2 linked regions of the Homo sapiens genome follow. The protein of the gene in region 1 purifies or fractionates together with the protein of each later gene. This does not show direct contact. Each region holds a gene or a part of one and is shown on either strand. Other genes may lie near its edges. The genes, in order: PIPOX and CSN2.

Region 1 (3,825 bases):
ACTTAAGAACAAAGTGAAATCCATTATGCAAATCAGCCAGGGCAGCTAATTACAGATTTATTCAGAGGCAGCTAATGCACCCAGCACCCAAATAAAGGAGCATGTCTTGCTGGTGGGTGGCCCGGCAGAGGGACCCCTCTCTGTCAGTTGTCTGTGAATACTGCTGAGCATCTTTTGCTAAAAGAATCGCCCTGGGCCTCAGAGGGCACACTTCCTCCTAGCACACAATGAGGCAACTAAGAGACGTTAGAGTGTCTGGAATCTTTCCGAGGGAGACGATTCTGGAGTGAGACAGGCTTAGGTTTGACATTGTGCTCTATTCCACACCAGTTGTGTGATCTTGGAAAAGTTTCTTGACTTCTCTGTGCCTCACTTTTTACGATAGGGCTCTGAGAGGATTAAATGAGACTTTTGTGAAATACTTGGCCCAATGTCTAGCACCTTTCAATAAGGGGCAGTCCCTTATTGACCCATTCTGGGTCAGCTGCATTCTGTTCCATTGAGCAACAGTGGGAGGAAAGGCAGGAGGAGACAGATGGGTGCAACAACCACAGATACCAAGGGGAGTGGCAGCAGGAAAGAGGGAGAGGGATCCTTGGGTAGGAGACTCTCAGAAGCGCACAATCCTCCTCTTTGCCAGGAGGACAGGAATTTGGACGGGCTTTGGAACTGGACCTGGCTCTAAATCTCAGCTCTGACACGCTCAGCTGTGTGGTTTGGAACGAGCTGTTGAACCTCTGGTGAGACTCAGCTTTTTTCATCTGTGAAGTAGGGATACTAATACCTGTGTCATGGTGCTGGGGTGAGGATAAGTAGGTAATGGGCTTAGAACAGCACCTGGAAAACCATCTTCCTCCTCCTCCTCACCATATATGTAGTGTTTACAATAAGAAACTAGGCTGGGCATGGTGGCTCACGCCTGTAATCCCAGCACTTTGGGAGGCTGAGGCAGGTGGATCACCTGAAGTCAGGAGTTAAAAACCAGCCTGGCCAACATGGTGAAACCCCGCCTCTACTAAAAATACAAAAAGTAGCCAGGCATGGTGGTGGACACCTGTAATCACAGCTATTAGGGAGGCTGATGAGGCAGAAGAATCGCTTGAACCTGGGAGGCAGAGGTTGCAGTGAGCCGAGATCACGCCACTGCACTGCACTCCAGCCTGGGTGACAGAGTGAGACTCCGTCTCAAAGAAAAAAAAAGAAAAGAAAAGAAAAGAAAAAACTAAGAGTTGCCTAAGTACCTGACACCTATAACTCATTCCATTCTCCTCACAATCTTATGAGAGGGTTGCTGCCGGGTAGTCAGGGTCTTATCCCATTAATGCAAATCACAGAATTACTATACTCTTAAGTCTAGAATAGAGGTTGGCCAGCTTTATCTATAAATGGCCACGTAGTAAGTATCTTAGCCTTTGCAGGCAACGTGGTCTCTGTTACAATTATTCAACTCTGCCATTGTAGTGTGAAAGCAAGATGTAAATAAATGAGCCTGGATGTATTCTAATACAACTTTATTTATAGACACTGAAATTTGAACTTCATATAATTTTCATGTGTCACTCAACATTATTCTTCTTTGGATTAAAAAAAATCAACAATTAAAAAATTTAAAAACCATCTTGGCTCATGGACCAGACCAAAACAAGCAGAAGGCCAGATTTGGTCCCTGAGTGGTAGCTTGCTGGCCCTGGGTGTGGAAGATACCTCAAACTGGTTAACTTGTCCATTTCTGTCTCCAAATAAGTTCATGCCTAAATCATCCCAGGTCAAAAGACTGCTACTATGCATTTAAAGACAGGGAAATATCACAGCCCTTCTTAAAAGACCATTCTGATGTCTCATAGCCCCAGTTACGAAAAATGAAAAGTAATGTGAATATGCTTTAAAAACCTCTAGAGTGCTAAGTATTCTTACTACTATTGTTATTATTCTATTATTATAAGTCCTTTCTTATGGCTAACCTAATGTACTCAGGCACACCAATTTATTTGGTTCTTTTACTTAGCAGGGACACAGAGCAGATACTTCCCATTCTCAGAATGGTATCTGAATACAGCTCTACTACCTTTGGGCTAAAAGCCATTCTAATTCCTTTAGCTTTTACTGATTCTTATTTTCTAAATGATTCATCATCTGTGTGGTTCTTACTTTTCCCCAGGTTTTTCTAGAAGAACCAGCACAATACCATAATACTACTGATAGATATGAGCATACTTAATGCTATTTGATGATGATTAAAAAAAAACCTTTAGGAGTTGGCAGTTCAGGTGGTTGTCCAGTGCTTTTCATTCTGTTTAGCTGCTTCCTGTGACAGCGGCATACTAAACATGGGTGGGTTTGGGACATTTGCATATATTCTGGGAACAGACAATGACACATGTGTCAGATCACAAGGTCTGAATCTTTTGTGATGTGTACAGCCAGGATGCTGATTCCAACAGCAAAACCCAGCTCCCTGGCCCATCTCTTTCCTGCCCCGCCTTCTCCCTTTGAGTCCTACTGTCTAGCTCCTGACCTGGGCTGCCCCTGCTTAGCTGACAGTATCAGACAAGATCACAGCCGTAGGCAGTACAGCTGCTGGCAGAACCTGGTGGCCCCCTCTGCAGCTGCTGTTTCTTGTGTCTGCGAAGTGTCTGGCTTGTCAGCCACATCCCCTCCCTGGAGCAGTCTTTGTTAACCAATTCCACCTCGGCCCACTGAACGGAAGATGAAATGCCTAGAGCTCCTCCAAAACCAACAAAGGCAGCAGCCATTACCAAGTCCCCATTCGAATCCCTTCCCCAAGGTGACTCAGAGCTGGCTTGCTGGGCATTTTTAACCCACAGAGGGGAGAGCTGAAGCTTGGGATGGGAGATGGCAGGTGCAGGGAGAGCCGTCTCCTCTCCCAATTCCTCCCCACTCCATCCTACACCCTGTCCTGCTACAGTAACTGGTGGAAATCCCTGATCACCAACTCCCTACATCATATCTGAGGCATTAGTCGGGCTATAGCAGAGTCAACAAGGCCCTCGGGAGGAATCTTCAATTACCTCTTCCTAGTGCTGGATCAAGCTAGGGTCAGGAGGAAGGAATAGTTCATACTAAATGCTCTTGACTCAGCTGATGGGCATTCTGGGAGGTGGGAGCTGCACTCTTTTCTAGGGTTCCCTGGCAACCCATGTGCTGGCTTTCAGTCCTTCTTTGTAGCTAGTCCTGACCATTCATTTCCCGGTCATTTTTTATCCTGCTGATGCCCTTGTCTCCTCTCACCCTTCTCCTTCCCAAACTTACAGCCCAGGTCTAAGCAGAAAAAAAGAAGACAGGGAGGCCACGAACACAGGGGTGAGAAATTGATGCAGAATGAGCAGTCTATTTGTTGGTATCTAGAAAAAGCCATTAAGAAAATAAGCACTTAAATGATTTTCAATCTGCCCATGGAAGCCATCCATCTTCATACTGGGAGGAAAAGGCCCATTCTCCAATCCCGGTTTTGACTGACTGGTTTCCAATTCTCTAAGCATTTCCCATAGGAGCCTCTCACCTATCTCCCATAATCACAGGCCTTTGCATTTCCAGGCAGTGTTTTACATTTATTTCCGATTTGCTCATAATGGTCAAAAATCTCTCTCCAATCCAAGGCATTTCTCCAGCAGCGCACGGTTTCCCTCAGGCCAAATAGCTCAGCTGTGATCCACGGAAAATGAGAATTTCCCAAACACATCTTCGGACTAGGGGAGGGTCTGGCATCACACATTCAGATGGAAAATTTCCCACTGTTATATCAATATCTGGGCTAAGAAAGAAATGCCACAGGGGCAGAGAGCTGGAGCAAAATGATTACAATCG
Region 2 (4,456 bases), on another chromosome or scaffold:
AACATAACAACTTCCTTTACTAGGTTACCTGATTTGTTGTCATAAAGTCATGAAATCCAAGAAATTTTACAATCCATTTTTCTTTCAAATCTCTAATATATTTGCTTCCACTGAATTATGTCACAGTGCATGCCTGACATTCACAGTCATCCATGATCTGATTCTATCAAACCTCTGCAATTGTAACTTGCAATGTATGCCCTCTGAATATCCTCAAACTGGTATGTTGCTCTTTCAGTTCCTGTGTTTTCTTCAGCCAAAATATCTATCCCCATTTAATCATCTCGCAAAATTCTACTCATTCTCTAAGGCTCAACTAAAAGAGCAGTTCCTTAATGGCAAGCTCCCCTGCCACACACAGCACAGAGGCCCTACTTTTCCAATTCAGGCATAATTAAATTGTACATATTTCAACCAAATGCTACATTGATAGATAAATTTTATAAAAAATTATCAGAAGGTTAAAACATGGGCTCTGAGACTCACATGTGATCAAACAGAATCACATGTAGTCAGACAGATCTGAGTCCAACTGGTATCTTTGCCATTAACAATATGGTTTTGAGCAAGTTACTTAACCTTTTGGCATCTCTGTTTTCTCAACCTAAATATGAAGAGGAGAGCTACCTCATGATGTTCTTGTGCAGATTATACAAGATAATATCTTTGCTTAGTGCTTGGCAAAGGGTTAGAACTAAGCAAAAAAACCCATCATTAATATTATCATAATTATGCTTGACCTGAAAAGAGATAATCAATATTAAAAGGTAAATAAAACTCCGTGATACTTTGCAAAATTTTTATTACAGATTTACTGAAGATTTTGCCTATACCAGCCACCCAGATTCCCTCTTCAAGTTATTCCATTACAGAGGAAAGTTTATTTATCTTGTGTACAAAATATTTGTTTTAACTAAATTATTTTTTTTTCCAAATCAAGTGGCCCTGGGAGAAACAGTTTGCCTCACATAACTAAGCTACCATCATGGACTTGTTATCTTGTCAGTTTCTTCATTTCAGCATAAAGCACTAACAACTGCTTAGGTTCACATGAAACTGTGGCCTTTGTGAAGCCCTGTGTATATCTAGCGTTCACATACAATTTTCCCACAACTGAAATCTCAAGGCCCCACTAGGCCCTAAAGAGACCTAATTATGTCCATAATAACTTGGGGACAGGGCCAGAGTATCACTGTCCTCCAGTCATTGTCTTTTGTTATTGAATAATTGCATTTCCTGGACAGGTTTCTTTTATCAACTTGTGAATTGTTCCCTTGTTATAATGATGCCCAGAATTTCTGGGGATATGTAATAGGCAGAAATCATTTTCTAATCATGTGGACTTCTTGGAATTAAAGCTCGCTATTGATCTTATTTCAAATCACAAAATTAGTGTGTCATTAAATATAGTATATAAACAGTCACAGAAGCTGATGGACCATCATCCATCCAGCACTACCTTCACTTCTCTTCAATCTTGGAAAAACGGTAAGAATTTTAGATACAAATTTGTTGTATCTTCTCCTAACCATGTATTTCAAAGTAGCTTGAGCTATAGAAGGAACGTAGTTACTTAAAATATAGTGTTTGAAATAAAAGTATTTAAGGTAGTACTGAGATTATTTTTAACACTTAGGCTAAAAAAGATAGAAGTGCCCAGAAGAATTTGGTAATGACATATAGCCTTCATGAGTTTAAGAAAATATAATAGCTAATTTTATGCATATATATATATATATATATATATATATATATATATAGTATGAGGCTAGTTCATAGTTAATATTAAAAGGAGATTCATTTTTTTAATTAATCTTCCAATTTGATTTAGCATATCACAGTTATAAAAAGAATTATACTTCAATTATAGTATGGGTAGATAAATAATTACTGGAAAAGCTTTGTCCAGCAGGTAGTTTACAGCAGTAGCATACTGAGTTGAGAAATGGAGGGAATGGTATGGGGGCATTTACTACTTTAAATGTTTATAAACAATGTTTTTAGAAGAGTTTACTCATCAAACTTGTCTAGAGCCTCAAACTTCCCAGTTTATTATCTAGTTTGTAATATTTCAAAACAATATTAAAATGAGACAGAAATACAGAATTAAGTAAAAAAGAAACAATGTGGTTTACTTTGTAAGAAAATTCTTAATGGGGTAGAAAAGACTTGGAAACCATAAACAAAGATAATAGATGATATAAAAGAAAAAGTAGCTTAGAGTGTACCAGTTGATAATGAAGCTCTGGCTTAAAAATTAGTATATAAAAGTATACCAGTATGTAGTATATTTATAGTATAGAAATGAGTATAAAAACTAGTATAATTAGTATTAGTATATATTAGTATATTAGTATATAAATTAGCATTGTAATTATACATTCGTATATAAAATTATTATATATATTAGTAGATTAGTAATAAAACTAGTAAAGTTTATATTACTTATAAAATATAGAAAATGCTGTGGGATCTTCCCTATGTGTAATTATATATAATAGAGTGTTATATTCTGTTTCTGAACCCTGACATAAAAATTTGGGAACTTATAGTGGTCTTAGGCAAAGTAAAATTAATAAAAACTTAATTAACATTCATAAAAAATCTAGAAAAAATATTTGTTTTCTGTAATAGAATTATGTTCAACCTTCAAATATTGAAAAGAACATCTCTCAAATAAATTAAAGACTTTTTTGATGAAGTATTTTAGTTCAAAAATTTAGTTCAAAAATTGAGTTTCAATATCTGAGAATGAAGATTTGAGTGGTGAGTAATATTGTGGCACAAACATTATTTTGAAATAAATTACAAAAAAATGTAAGAACACATAACAAGGAGATGATTTAGTATATTTTGGTCAAAAATATTAACATATATTTCACAAGAAGAGGTAGTCCCAAGCTTAGCAGTGGGCAAGAGGCTCTGACCCCTTGGCGGATCATCAAGAGAATCGTGTGTACATTTCAATAAAGAGAAGAGAAGAAGCCTAGTGTACAATATCTAAAGTCATGTGGCATAAAGGAGAACAGACATTATTAGCTATGTGGGGAAGATGAATATAAACGGAGAAGAAACAAACTCAATAGTCCAATAAAGTCTCTGGATAGTGACACAAATAAGGAAAGTGTTAAAATGAAAACCTCAGTCTTATTGGAAATGAGGAGAAATAAACTAAAATAGTCATGGTAACCGTTTAGTGAAAAGAAAAAAGGTAAAAATAAAATGTGACTTTTTTGTACACATTTTCTTGATCAGTCTCTTCCAGTAGAACTGAGGCTCCATGAGGGAGTAATATCAGGACTGTAATATTTTGTTCATTGCTGCGGTCCTGGTCCCTAGACAGTGTCTGGCAAGAACAGATTCTAAAGAAATATTTTTAAGTTAATGAATAAATCTTTTTTTAAATTTTATTTGTCTTTTGAAATTATTATTATTATACTTTAAGTTTTAGGGTACATGTGCACAAAGTGCAGGTTTGTTACATATGTATACATGTGCCATGTTGGTGTGCTGCACCCATTAACACGTCATTTAACATTAGGTATATCTCCTAATGCTATCCCTCCCCACTCCCCCCACCCCACAACAGCCCCGGTGTGTGATGTTCCCCTTCCTGTGTCCGTGTGTTCCCATTGTTCAATTCCCACCTATGAGTGAGAACATGTGGTGTTTGGTTTTTTTGTCCTTGCGATAGTTTGCTGAGAATGATGGTTTCCAGCTTCATCCATGTCCCTACAAAGGACATGAACTCATCATTTTTTATGGCTGCATAGTATTCCATGGTGTATATGTGCCACATTTTCTTAATCCAGTCTATCATTGTTGGACATTTGGGTTGGTTCCAAGTCTTTGCTATTGTGAATAGTGCCGCAATAAACATACATGTGTATGTGTCTTTATAGCAGCATGATTTATAATCCTTTGGGTATATACCCAGTAATGGGATGGCTAGGTCAAATGGTATTCCTAGCTCTAGATCCCTGAGGAATCGCCACACTGACTTCCACAATGGTTGAACTAGTTTACAGTCCCACCAACAGTGTAAAAGTGTTCCTATTTCTCCACATCCTCTCCAGCACCTGTTGTTTCCTGACTTTTTAATGATCGCCATTCTAACTGGTGTGAGATGGTATCTCATTGTGGTTTTGATTTGCATTTCTCTGATGGCCAGTGATGATGAGCATTTTTTCATGTGATTTTTGGCTGTATAAATGTCTTCTTTTGAGAAGTGTTTGTTCATATCCTTTGCCCACTTTTTGATGGGGTTGTTTGTTTTTTTCTTGTAAATTTGTTGGAGTTCATTGTAGATTCTGGATATTAGCCCTTTGTCAGATGAGTAGATTGCAAAAATTTTCTCTCATTCTGCAGGTTGCCTGTTCACTCTGATGGTAGTTTCTTTTGCTGTGCAGAAGTTCTTTAGTTTAATTAGATCCCATTTGTCAATTTTGGCTTTTGT

Evidence for each region.
Region 2: the proteins of PIPOX (region 1) and CSN2 purify together in Homo sapiens (affinity purification with mass spectrometry; one large-scale study listed by BioGRID and IntAct). This does not show direct contact.

Annotation. Positions count from the first base shown.
Region 1 is NC_000017.11:29,046,108-29,049,932, forward strand, and holds part of PIPOX (peroxisomal sarcosine oxidase), read left to right. Parts: intron 1-3,825. UniProt on the Homo sapiens protein: Metabolizes sarcosine and L-pipecolic acid.
Region 2 is NC_000004.12:69,962,713-69,967,168, reverse strand, and holds the start of CSN2 (beta-casein isoform 1 precursor), read left to right. Parts: upstream 1-1,440; 5' UTR 1,441-1,488; intron 1,489-4,456. UniProt on the Homo sapiens protein: Important role in determination of the surface properties of the casein micelles.